3 separate regions of the Homo sapiens genome follow, and all the other regions are reported to be linked to region 2. The links are microRNA targets in miRTarBase. Many come from high-throughput screens and were not tested one by one. Region 2 holds a microRNA gene; each other region holds the end of a gene's coding sequence.
The links. Region 2 holds the annotated microRNA hsa-miR-3173-5p (UGCCCUGCCUGUUUUCUCCUUU, at 1,278-1,299, opposite strand). A microRNA usually pairs through its seed, bases 2 to 8, with sites in the 3' UTR of a target mRNA and lowers its output. Matches are read on the target gene's strand: a 7mer-m8 pairs with bases 2 to 8, a 7mer-A1 pairs with bases 2 to 7 and ends in A, and an 8mer does both.

Region 1 (3,256 bases), not on the chromosome of region 2:
GCATAGTAAGAGAGTAGCAACACTAAAAGAAATTAAAGATGCAAACTACTGCTAAAAGAAATTAAAGATACAAATAAGAGGAAAGACATCCTGTGTTCATGGATTGGAATACTTAATATTGTTACGATGTCCATACTACCAAAGTAATCTACAGATTTAATGCAATCCCTATCAAAATCCCAATGGCATTTTTACAGAAATAGAAAAATCCATCCTAAAATTCACAGACTCTTAAGGAACCACAAATAGCTAGAGCACCCTCCGGGTGGGGTGAAAGAAAGAACAAAGCTAGAGGACTCACACTTACTGATTTTAAAGCATACTACAAAGCTACAGTGTAGCAGTCATCCCTTATTTGTGGTTTAACCTTCCACCGCTTTAGTTCTACCCACAGTCAACTGTGGTTCAAAAACAGGTGAGTACAGTACAGCAAGATATTGAGAGATCACATTCACCTTTTATTACTATACACTACAATTGTTCTATTTTGTTATTGTTGCTCATCTCTTACTATGTCTAATTTATGAGTTAAACGTCATCATAGGTATGTACGTACACGAAAAACAACATAATATATACAGGGTTTGGTACTATCTGTGGTTTCAAGAATCCACTAGAGGGGTCTTGAAACATATCTTAGATAAAACGGACTACTGTAATCAAAACAGTGTAGTACTGCCCCGAAGACAGACATACAGACTAAAGAAATAGCCCAGAAATAAACTCTCGCATTTAGAGTCAAATGATTTCACCAAGGTACCAAGACCACTCCATGGAAGAGGACAATCTTAAATGATTTCGGGAAAACTGGATACCACATGTAAAAGAATACAGTTGGATCTTTACACCCTACACAAAAATTCAAGTGAATCAAAGATCTAAACATAAGAGCTAAAACTATAAAAGTCTTAGAAGAACACATAAAAAAGACTTCATGACATTGGATTTGGCAATGATTTATTGAATATGACACTAAAAGCACACAGAACAAAAATAAAAATAAATTCGACATCAAAATTTCTGTGCATCAAGGGACACAACAGAGTGAAAAGGCAACCTATGAAATGGGAGAAAATATTTACAAATCATATCTGATAAGGGGTTAATATCCAGAATATATACAGAACAACTCAACCAATAAACAAAAAACCAAATTTGAAAATGAGCAGAACTGAATAAACATTTCTCCAAAGATAACATACAAATGGCCAATAAGTACATGAAAAGATGCTCAAGAACACAAATAATCAGGGAAATGCAAATCAAAACCACAATGATACCACCTCATACCTATTAGGATGGCTACTATCAAAAAATACCAAAATTATGCCAGGCACAGTGGCTCACGCCTGTAATCCCAACACTTTGGGAGGCCAAGGTGGACGGATCGCCTGAGCCCAGGAATTCAAGCACAGCCCAGGTAATATGGTGAAACCCTGTCTCTACTAAAAATAAAGAAGTTAGCCAGGTGTGGTGGCACATGCCTATAGTGCCAGCTTCTTGGGAGGCTGAGGCAGGAAGATCCCTTGAGCCTGGGAGGTTGAGGCTGCAGTGAGCCATGATCGCACTACAGCACTACGGCCTGGGTGACAGAGGGAGACCCTGTTAAAAAAAAAATTAACAAGTGTTGGGGAGGATGGAAAGAGTGTAAAATGGTGCAGCCACTATGGAAAAGGGTATGGCAGTTTCTTAAGAAATTAAAAATCATATGATCCAGGAATTCCACTTTTGAATATACCCCAAAAGAATTGATAGCAAGGCCTTGAAGGAATATTTGCATGCCTAGGTTCACAGCATCACTCACAACAATCAAAAAGTGGAAGCAACCCAAGCATCTACTGATGGATGAATGGATAACAATGTGACACAACTAAAATAGATCATTCAGCTTTAAAAAGAAAGGAAATTCTGACACATGCTGTAACATGGATGAACCTTGAGTACACTACGCTAAGTGAAATAAGCCAGTCACAAGAAAACAAATACTGTGTGATTCTACTTATGAGATGCCTGGGGTAGCCAAATTCTTAGAAAGTAACACAGTGGCTGCCAGGGTCTGAGTGGAGGTGTGAATGGGTTGCTTAATGGATATAGGGTTTCAATTCTGTAAGATGACGAGTTCTGGAGACTGGTTGCACAACAATGTGAATGAACTTAACACTACTAAACTGTACAATTAAAAATGGTTAAGATGGCAAATTTTATATTATAGATGCTCCTTAACTTACCATCAGGTTACATTCTGATAAAACCATCATAAGTTTAAAATATCTTAAGTTGAAAATGCATTTAATACACCTAACTTACATCATAGCTTAGCCTTCCCTACCTTAAATGTGCTCAGAACACTTATGTTAGCCTACAGCTGAAGAAAATCATCTAACACAAAGCCTAGCTTATAATAAAACACTGAGTATCTCACACAACACTACAGAGTACAGCATCAGCTGTTTACCCTTGTGATTATGTTTCTGACTGGGGGATGTGGTCATTGGTGCTCCCCCACATCACAAAAGTATTGTGCCACTTATTGCTCATGTGGACAAAGATCAAAATTCAAAGTATGGTTTCTACCAAATGTGTATCACTTCCACACCATCGTAAAGTCAAAAAATCTTAAGTCTAAACATTGTGAGGGACAGTCACCTGTATTTGCATTTTACCACAATTAGAAATTTTTTTTTAAGTAACTTCAAATAACCATATTACCTTTATATTCCAAGATTACTTTACACTCTGAAAGATACCAGCCTTCCTCATCTCCTCAAAATCTTTCATGACATCGTAGTTTCTGTAGAAATCTGCGTATGCCTTCTTTCTTTGATCAGCCACACGAAACTAAAAAGCAACCATCCATTAGAGTTTATTTTTCAGATTACTGGAAATTAGATTCCAGATTATAATATATAAAGACAAGGTAGAACACATGTTTTTGTTCACCCTTTAATTTAAACCCTACATTTCCTAAGGGGTGGAGGTGGTGACAGATAAAAAGGAAGACAAAGTCTAAGAAACTGCTAAATTTGCAAAGAAAAGAATGGGGAATAAGGTGTCTATTTTGTTTTGTTCGAGGTTTCCGTACACAAAGGGTGGGTGGGGTTCAACAGAGAAAGAAAAAATGAAGATTCAAGACAAAAATGGAAAGTTTAAGTGACTTATTATTTTTTTTAAAGATGGGGTCTCGCCTGTAGTCCCAGCTACTCGGGAGGCTGAGGCAGGAGAATGGCGTGAACCCGGGAGACGGAGGTTGCAGTGA
Region 2 (3,222 bases):
ATGGTTGAAGAGAAGCAGTTGTCTTTCTTTCCCTCTAAAGATGACTCATGAAATTATTAGTCCCATTTGCTGCTGCAATTACACTACACAGACCCATGAAAAGATCCAGCCTTAGGATGAAACCAGCACCGCAGATGGCAAAAATAAAGAACCTGGGTCATTGATGACATCAATAAACTGCTGGATCAACCAAACTCAAAGCCCAGCCTAACAATGGACTTTCCAATTAACTGAGCCAACAAATTCCTTAACTATCCAAGCTAGCTTGAGTTGAATATTCTGGGATAAAAGCAAACCAAATGACACTCTCTAAATCACTATTATCACTTCCTGTAAAAGGTATAAGTAGAAAAGAGGAAAGCAAAGAACAGATATGAACAGAAAGGAAAGGAAAAAAAGGAAAGAAGGGAAAGAAGGAAAGGAGGAAAAAGGGAAAGCAAGGGAAAGGGGAAAAGGAAAGAAAAGGGAAAGGAAGAGGAAGGGGAAGGAAAAGGGGAAGGAGAAGGAAAAGGGGAAGGGGAAAGGAAAAAGGGAAGGGGAAAGGAAAGGGGAAGAGGAAGAGAAAGGGGAAATAAAAAGGAAAATGGAAAGGGGAAGGGGAAGGGAAAGGCAAAAGAAAAAGGAAAAGGGAAAGGGGAAGAGGAAAGGGAAAGGGGAAGGGGAAGGGAAAGAGGAAGGAAAAGGGAAGGGGGAAGGGGAAGGAAAAGGTAAAGGGGAAAGGGAAAGAAAAAGGGGAAGGGAATAAGAGGAAGGAAAAGGGGAAGAGGAAAGGGAAAGAAAAAGGGGACAGGAATGGGGATAGGGAAGGGGAAGGGAAAGGGGAAGGGGAAGGAAAAGGGAAAGGGGAAAGGGAAAGAAAAAGGGGAAGGGAATGGAGAAGGGGAAGGGAAAGGGGAAGGGGAAAGGAAAAAAGTCAGGGATCAAAGCAGAAAGCCATCAGGCCACAAATATTGAGATAATGAACAAGTACTGCAGCCAGACCCCAAGCAAGGTGAAAAGCTTTGTTTGTAAGGGAAAAGTCAAGGGTCTTAGACTCCAAAAAACCAGGGATGAGCTCTACCAAGAAGCTTCTAAGACTTTGAAAATGTTCTCCTTATTTGTCCTTAGGAATACTTTTTTTCACTTTCTGCTATCAGTAAATTCTTTTTGAAACTGCAAAGCCGCTTGTTTCGGAAACAAATTGAGGAAAAATCTGGACAGTTCTTCCTCGGCACAAGAGAGGGAGAGAGATCGTTTCCCTGGCCTGCCTATTTCCTCCTTTGTTCTCATAAAATCACAAAGGAGAAAACAGGCAGGGCAGGGAAGCTGGCCCAAGACCAACAAAGACTCAATTCTATCTGGAAAATAAGCCCTAGACCTCCAATGTTTCTCAGGCCCGGTTTCACCTCAAGACACCAACCTCACTCAAGTATGTGGATCCTATTCCTACAAACCAGCAGGTAAAGAGCTTGGAAAAGGAGGAGTTGCAAATTCACTCAGTGTCCAGGTTCTGTTCCTGGCATTTCAAAGGACAGAGATTTTTTTTTTTTCTTAGCAAACACAACATTTCTCATAAATGCCCTACCCCACCCTAAAACTTTCACAGGGTTTAGAAAAAAATGATAGGTAGCTGGTTTCTAAGAATCAATCTGAGAAAAAAAGTGGAAAAAAAAAACAGAGAAATGAAAGGTTACATTTATCAACATTTAGGCTCTAAATAAAGAGAAAATAGATACATTATATAGTAAAAATAAATATCAAACAATAAAGAAATACAGAAATAACATCTCTAACCAAAAATACCTGAAAAGATTAAGGTTTCTATCAGCTCTCACAAAAAACCATGTGTAAGAAAATAATACAAACTACTGGAATGGAATTCATTAAAAAGTTGATATTTAAAAAGGAAATTAAGCAAAGCACTACACTCTGTGATATCTAGTCCCAAATGTACTCTGAAAAGTACTGCCCCCACTCATGACTGCCTGACTTCTGCCGACCTGTAACCTTACGTTCAGATTATTCACCCAGCTTCTCAGTAAACTATCGCAAGAACAAAAAACCAAACACCGCATATTCTCACTCATAGGTGGGAATTGAACAATGAGATCACATGGACACAGGAAGGGGAATATCACACTCTGGGGACTGTGGTGGGGTCGGGGGAGGGGGGAGGGATAGCATTGGGAGATATACCTAATGCTAGATGACACATTAGTGGGTGCAGCGCACCAGCATGGCACATGTATACATATGTAACTAACCTGCACAATGTGCACATGTACCCTAAAACTTAGAGTATAATAAAAAAAATAAAAATAAATAAAAAAATAAAAAAAAAAAAAAAAGAATGCTATCCTATTGCTGCCTCATCACCATTCACCAGCAATTTCCACAACAGAAGAGTAATCCCTGTTGGCTGAAAGCCTATAGCATATTATGCATCCTCCCTGACTGACCAACTGAAAGTGTTTAATCCTGTATTTCAATCCTATGTGCTCAATCCAAGTGATCCTAGCAGTTATACTACAGAGGCTTGGGGTATAGTCTTAATCCATAAAATGTACTTCTGTAATTTTATATGAATTCTTATTTAGAAAATTTCTCTTAAAACTCTGTTCTCACTAAAATATGACCAATTAGACTAGAATTTCCTTGGATATAGGAGCTGCATATCTTACCCTTACCTGTATTACCCACTGTACAGAACCACATCCAGGACATGGTAAACAAAAACTGCAGGTTGTTAGAATGAAAACAATGTCCACCTGAGTGACATTAAAACCTCAAACAGCTTCTATTTGCCTTTCATAATTTCTATCACAGATTTTTAGAGCTATTCATAGACACACATACACAACATACATGTTATTCTTTTACTGGAGCACAGCTCCATAAGAACAAGACATGAGTCTCATTCTTTGCACCTCTTAAATTTCCTGCTACAATGTTCTGTATATACATTTAAGTAAATATTTGACAAACTGAATTAGAGACTCATGAATGTCCACACAATAATATACAGAACAGAATCATGGATGGATCAAGATATATTTCTATTCGGTTTGGAAACACACATCTATCCCACTCCTACCAGCCCTGAGAGATGAGTGCAGGAGAGAGGATGTACAAGGACATAAAGAACAACAATTTAACCCTTCCAATTATATTTTCCATAAGGTTACAATGTTTAAATTAATTTTCATTCATTTAGTGGACAATAACTGGCCCCAGTAATGCACT
Region 3 (3,256 bases), not on the chromosome of region 2:
ATGAAAGTGCCTTTTACTCAGCCTGCACAGAGCCATCTCTTTGCCCTTCCAGATGTCTGACTGGGACCTTGCTTATGGATGTGTTTTTTTTTTTTTTTTTTTGAGATGGAGTCTCGCTCTGTTGCCAGGCTGGAGTGCAGTGGTGCGACCTCAGCTCACTGCACCCTCTGTCTCCCGGATTCAAGCGATTCTCCTGCCTCAGCCTCCCGAATAGCAGGGACTACAGGCATGCGCCACCACGCCCAGCTAATTTTTTTTGGATTTTTAGTAGAGACGAGGTTTCACCATATTAGCCAGGATGGTCTCCATCTCCTGACCTCCTGATCCGCCCACCTCAGCCTCCCAAAGTGCTGAGATTACAGGCATAAGCCACCGCGCCCAGCCAGATGTGTGAGCTTTTAATCTCTGGCTGATCTTAACCCACATCAGCCTAAGCTTGGGATGATTACTCTTGACCCTTTTTTTTCAGTGATTAGCAAATCTCCCCACAACCCAGGTGTGGAGAGAAGAGAGGTAGAATGGTGCTAGTTTCCTATTTTATTTTTGTGGTAACTGTACAGCACTTTAAAGTTATATACTCTATGTTTAAATATCTCCCTTAAAAAGCCTGAGCTGTACAACAATCTGGATGTGACTCTGTTACCCTTTTCCCACAAGATAGGAGGGAATCCCCTTTGTAAAACTATGAATCCAAATAAATGTTTACAAAGTGGCTCTTGTGATAATTGGTAATTAAACCATTACCAATTTTATTTTTGAAAAGGCAACACTGTAATAGTATATGCTGTCATTGCCCTGAGCCTGATCTGAACCAGAGTCTAGTTTGACCTGTCTTCTACCCAAGGCATTATTCCTTGTTGTTGATGTGGTATCTAAGAGGCTTAAACAACCTCTAAGGGACAAACTTGCAAGGTTATAAGAGAACTGCTTCTTTTTTTTTTTTTAACTTAAATTTTATTTTTTTGAGACACGGTCTCGCTCTCTTGCCCAGGCTGGAGTGTGGTGGCATGAACACGGTTCACTGCAGCCTGGACCTCCTGGGCGCAAGTGATTCTCCCACCTCAGCCTCCCGAGTAGCTGAACTATAGGCACATGCCACCATGCCCAGCTAATTATTTTTAAAATATTTTGTAGAGATGAGGTCTTGCTTTGTTGCCCAGGCTGATCTTGAACTCCCAAAGTGCTGTGATTAGAGGTGTGAGCCACTGTGCCTGGCCTAATTTAAATGTTAAATTCTACTTTTATCGTGTATGTCATCTCTCCAGTCATTTTCCTGGAAGACCTGCTTTTAAGAATGTATGGGGCTTAGTGCGGTGGCTCATGTCTGTAATCTCAACGCTCTGGGAGGCTGAGGTGGGAGGTTTGCTTGAGACCAGGAGTTTAAGACCAGCCTGGGCAACATAGCAAGACCCCATCGCTACAAAAAAATTTAAAAATTTCCTGGGTGTGGTGGTGCATACCTGTAGTCCCAGCTACTCAGGAGGCTAAGGTGGGAGGCTCACTTGAGCCCAGGAGTTTGGAGGCTGCAGTTAGCTAATGATCCCACCACTGCACTCCGGCATGACAGAGCTAGATACTGTTTCTAAAAAAAAGAAAAAGAGTATAGGGCAAAATCTCTACAGAAAGGGGGAAGAAACCCCCTAGAAGGGCAGGACCTTATAAGGAAAGAGGAGAAGCCAGTAGCCTGTTTAAGTTCATACACCTTAAAATTAACAATAATCCTATGCCCCTGAAGGATACTGGGTAATCGCAACTCAAGAGATGGACACAGCAAATGCATTCTCTCTCCAAGTCCTTCCTTTAATGTCAGGTAGTGCTTCAACCCAAACACAAGCAGTATACATACCATAGAGAAAGGGACCTGAGGGCATCTGAGTCATGCATGGTGTGGTACATACAAACCTTGGCCCAGCCCAAAGGAGCAGTCAAGGGCCTGGAAGAAAGATGGTTTGCTCTTTCCCCCTCCTCCTCTCTCTTTCCTACCGGGCTTAAAGTCCGTGGAAGAGAAAGTTTTTAATCAGTGGAACTGATAAGGCCTCAGGGCCGTGGAGGGTAGATTTGGTTGTTCAGTAATATAAAATGTGTTTAAGAAAAAAAACAGCCCAGGCTTCCCAGCAGTAGCCCATGTGTTGGCTGGTTCAGCAGCCTGACCTCTACATCTAGACAAGGAAGTGAGGAGGGTGATTGCTGGGCATTGGTGTAGGTTTATGACGGAGCAGCATAAGATTTTCCGTGCCCTGTGAACATGTATACAAACATTCATAGCCCCTTCCCCTCAGCCCTGCTCTGCTGCAAGGAAGCTGCTGAGTGAGTGACAGCTGGGCACAAAGTGTCTTGTGAGACCAGCTATAGGGTCTAATGCAGTGAAGTCAGTCATTTAGGACCTATTTTCACACAGGGGCAAGGAAAAACCAGAAACAACTTCTCTCTTACCCTTTAAACTAAGATACTTCATTCTACACGATTACCTGAAACAAATGTCTCAGGTCAAATCACAAGCCTTAGCTTCTGCTAGGGTTTGAAGTCTGGGAAATATATAATCCAGCTCTTCTCTTTCAGTCCAAGCTCTAGCTTGTCAGCAAGACTGTTGCAGAAGATCTATCCTTAAGAGGCAGAAACATCTGCGGTGAGGAAGGCAGCTATTGAAGGTATTCCAGGAGCATGAGACTGAGTTTGCAGAGCTGAGGGTTGTCAATTTCCTTTTCTACTGATATCTTCTTCCTTTAGAGCAAACTTCCTCCTTAGGACCTCAGAGATAAGCACAGCAGGGTCTTCCTCCTTCAATAAACTCCGGTTCCTAGAGACACAATAATAGCTTGAGTACTTACTCTTTCCTGTGTAGTGCTGTATATCTTTTGAATACATTATCTCGTTGAATCCTCACAACAATCTTACGAGGTAGGTGCCATTACAATTCCCTTTCACAGATAAGGAAATTGAAGCACAGAAAGGTTATACAAGTTGCCCAAGGTCACTAGTCACTCAGCAAGTAAGCGGTGAATCCAGAGTTCAGAACCAAACTAGCTGGTTCCAGATCTCATCTATTAACTAGAATGCTTTACTATTTCCTGAAATAGCTATAAAGTATGGGCAAAGTAAAGGACCATCAGTCTGTTAGAGTTGGCCTCTGGTGGCTAAGCTTCTGCCTTCTGGCCCTGTTTTCTTAGTAGCATTTCCCCAGAGGGTCAGCAGGGGAAGTGACTGATGACTCTTGGCTATTCTGACCCTTGATAGTTCTGGAGAAAAGGTGTGCTTG

Region 1: miRTarBase lists COX6C as a target of hsa-miR-3173-5p. The part of its 3' UTR that is shown has no 7-base or 8-base seed match.
Region 3: miRTarBase lists MTFR1L as a target of hsa-miR-3173-5p. Seed matches in the 3' UTR shown: 7mer-m8 at 2,279-2,285 and 7mer-A1 at 2,234-2,240.

The regions. Positions count from the first base shown.
Region 1 is chr8:99,884,781-99,888,036 of GRCh38, forward strand. COX6C (cytochrome c oxidase subunit 6C) reads right to left here. Exons shown (of 4, transcript NM_004374.4): 3 at 2,710-2,838. The coding sequence ends at 2,725. Among named protein-coding and RNA genes, the nearest start is that of COX6C, 7.3 kb to the right of the region's middle.
Region 2 is chr14:95,136,684-95,139,905 of GRCh38, forward strand. It overlaps MIR3173 (microRNA 3173), which reads right to left and starts at 1,303; the gene lies at 1,236-1,303. The region is part of intron 1 of DICER1 (dicer 1, ribonuclease III); the gene reads right to left.
Region 3 is chr1:25,831,462-25,834,717 of GRCh38, reverse strand. MTFR1L (mitochondrial fission regulator 1 like) reads right to left here. Exons shown (of 7, transcript NM_001099625.2): 7 at 1,780-2,797. The coding sequence ends at 2,692. It overlaps AUNIP (aurora kinase A and ninein interacting protein), which reads left to right. Exons shown (of 3, transcript NM_024037.3): 3 at 1-712. Among named protein-coding and RNA genes, the nearest start is that of MTFR1L, 13 kb to the right of the region's middle.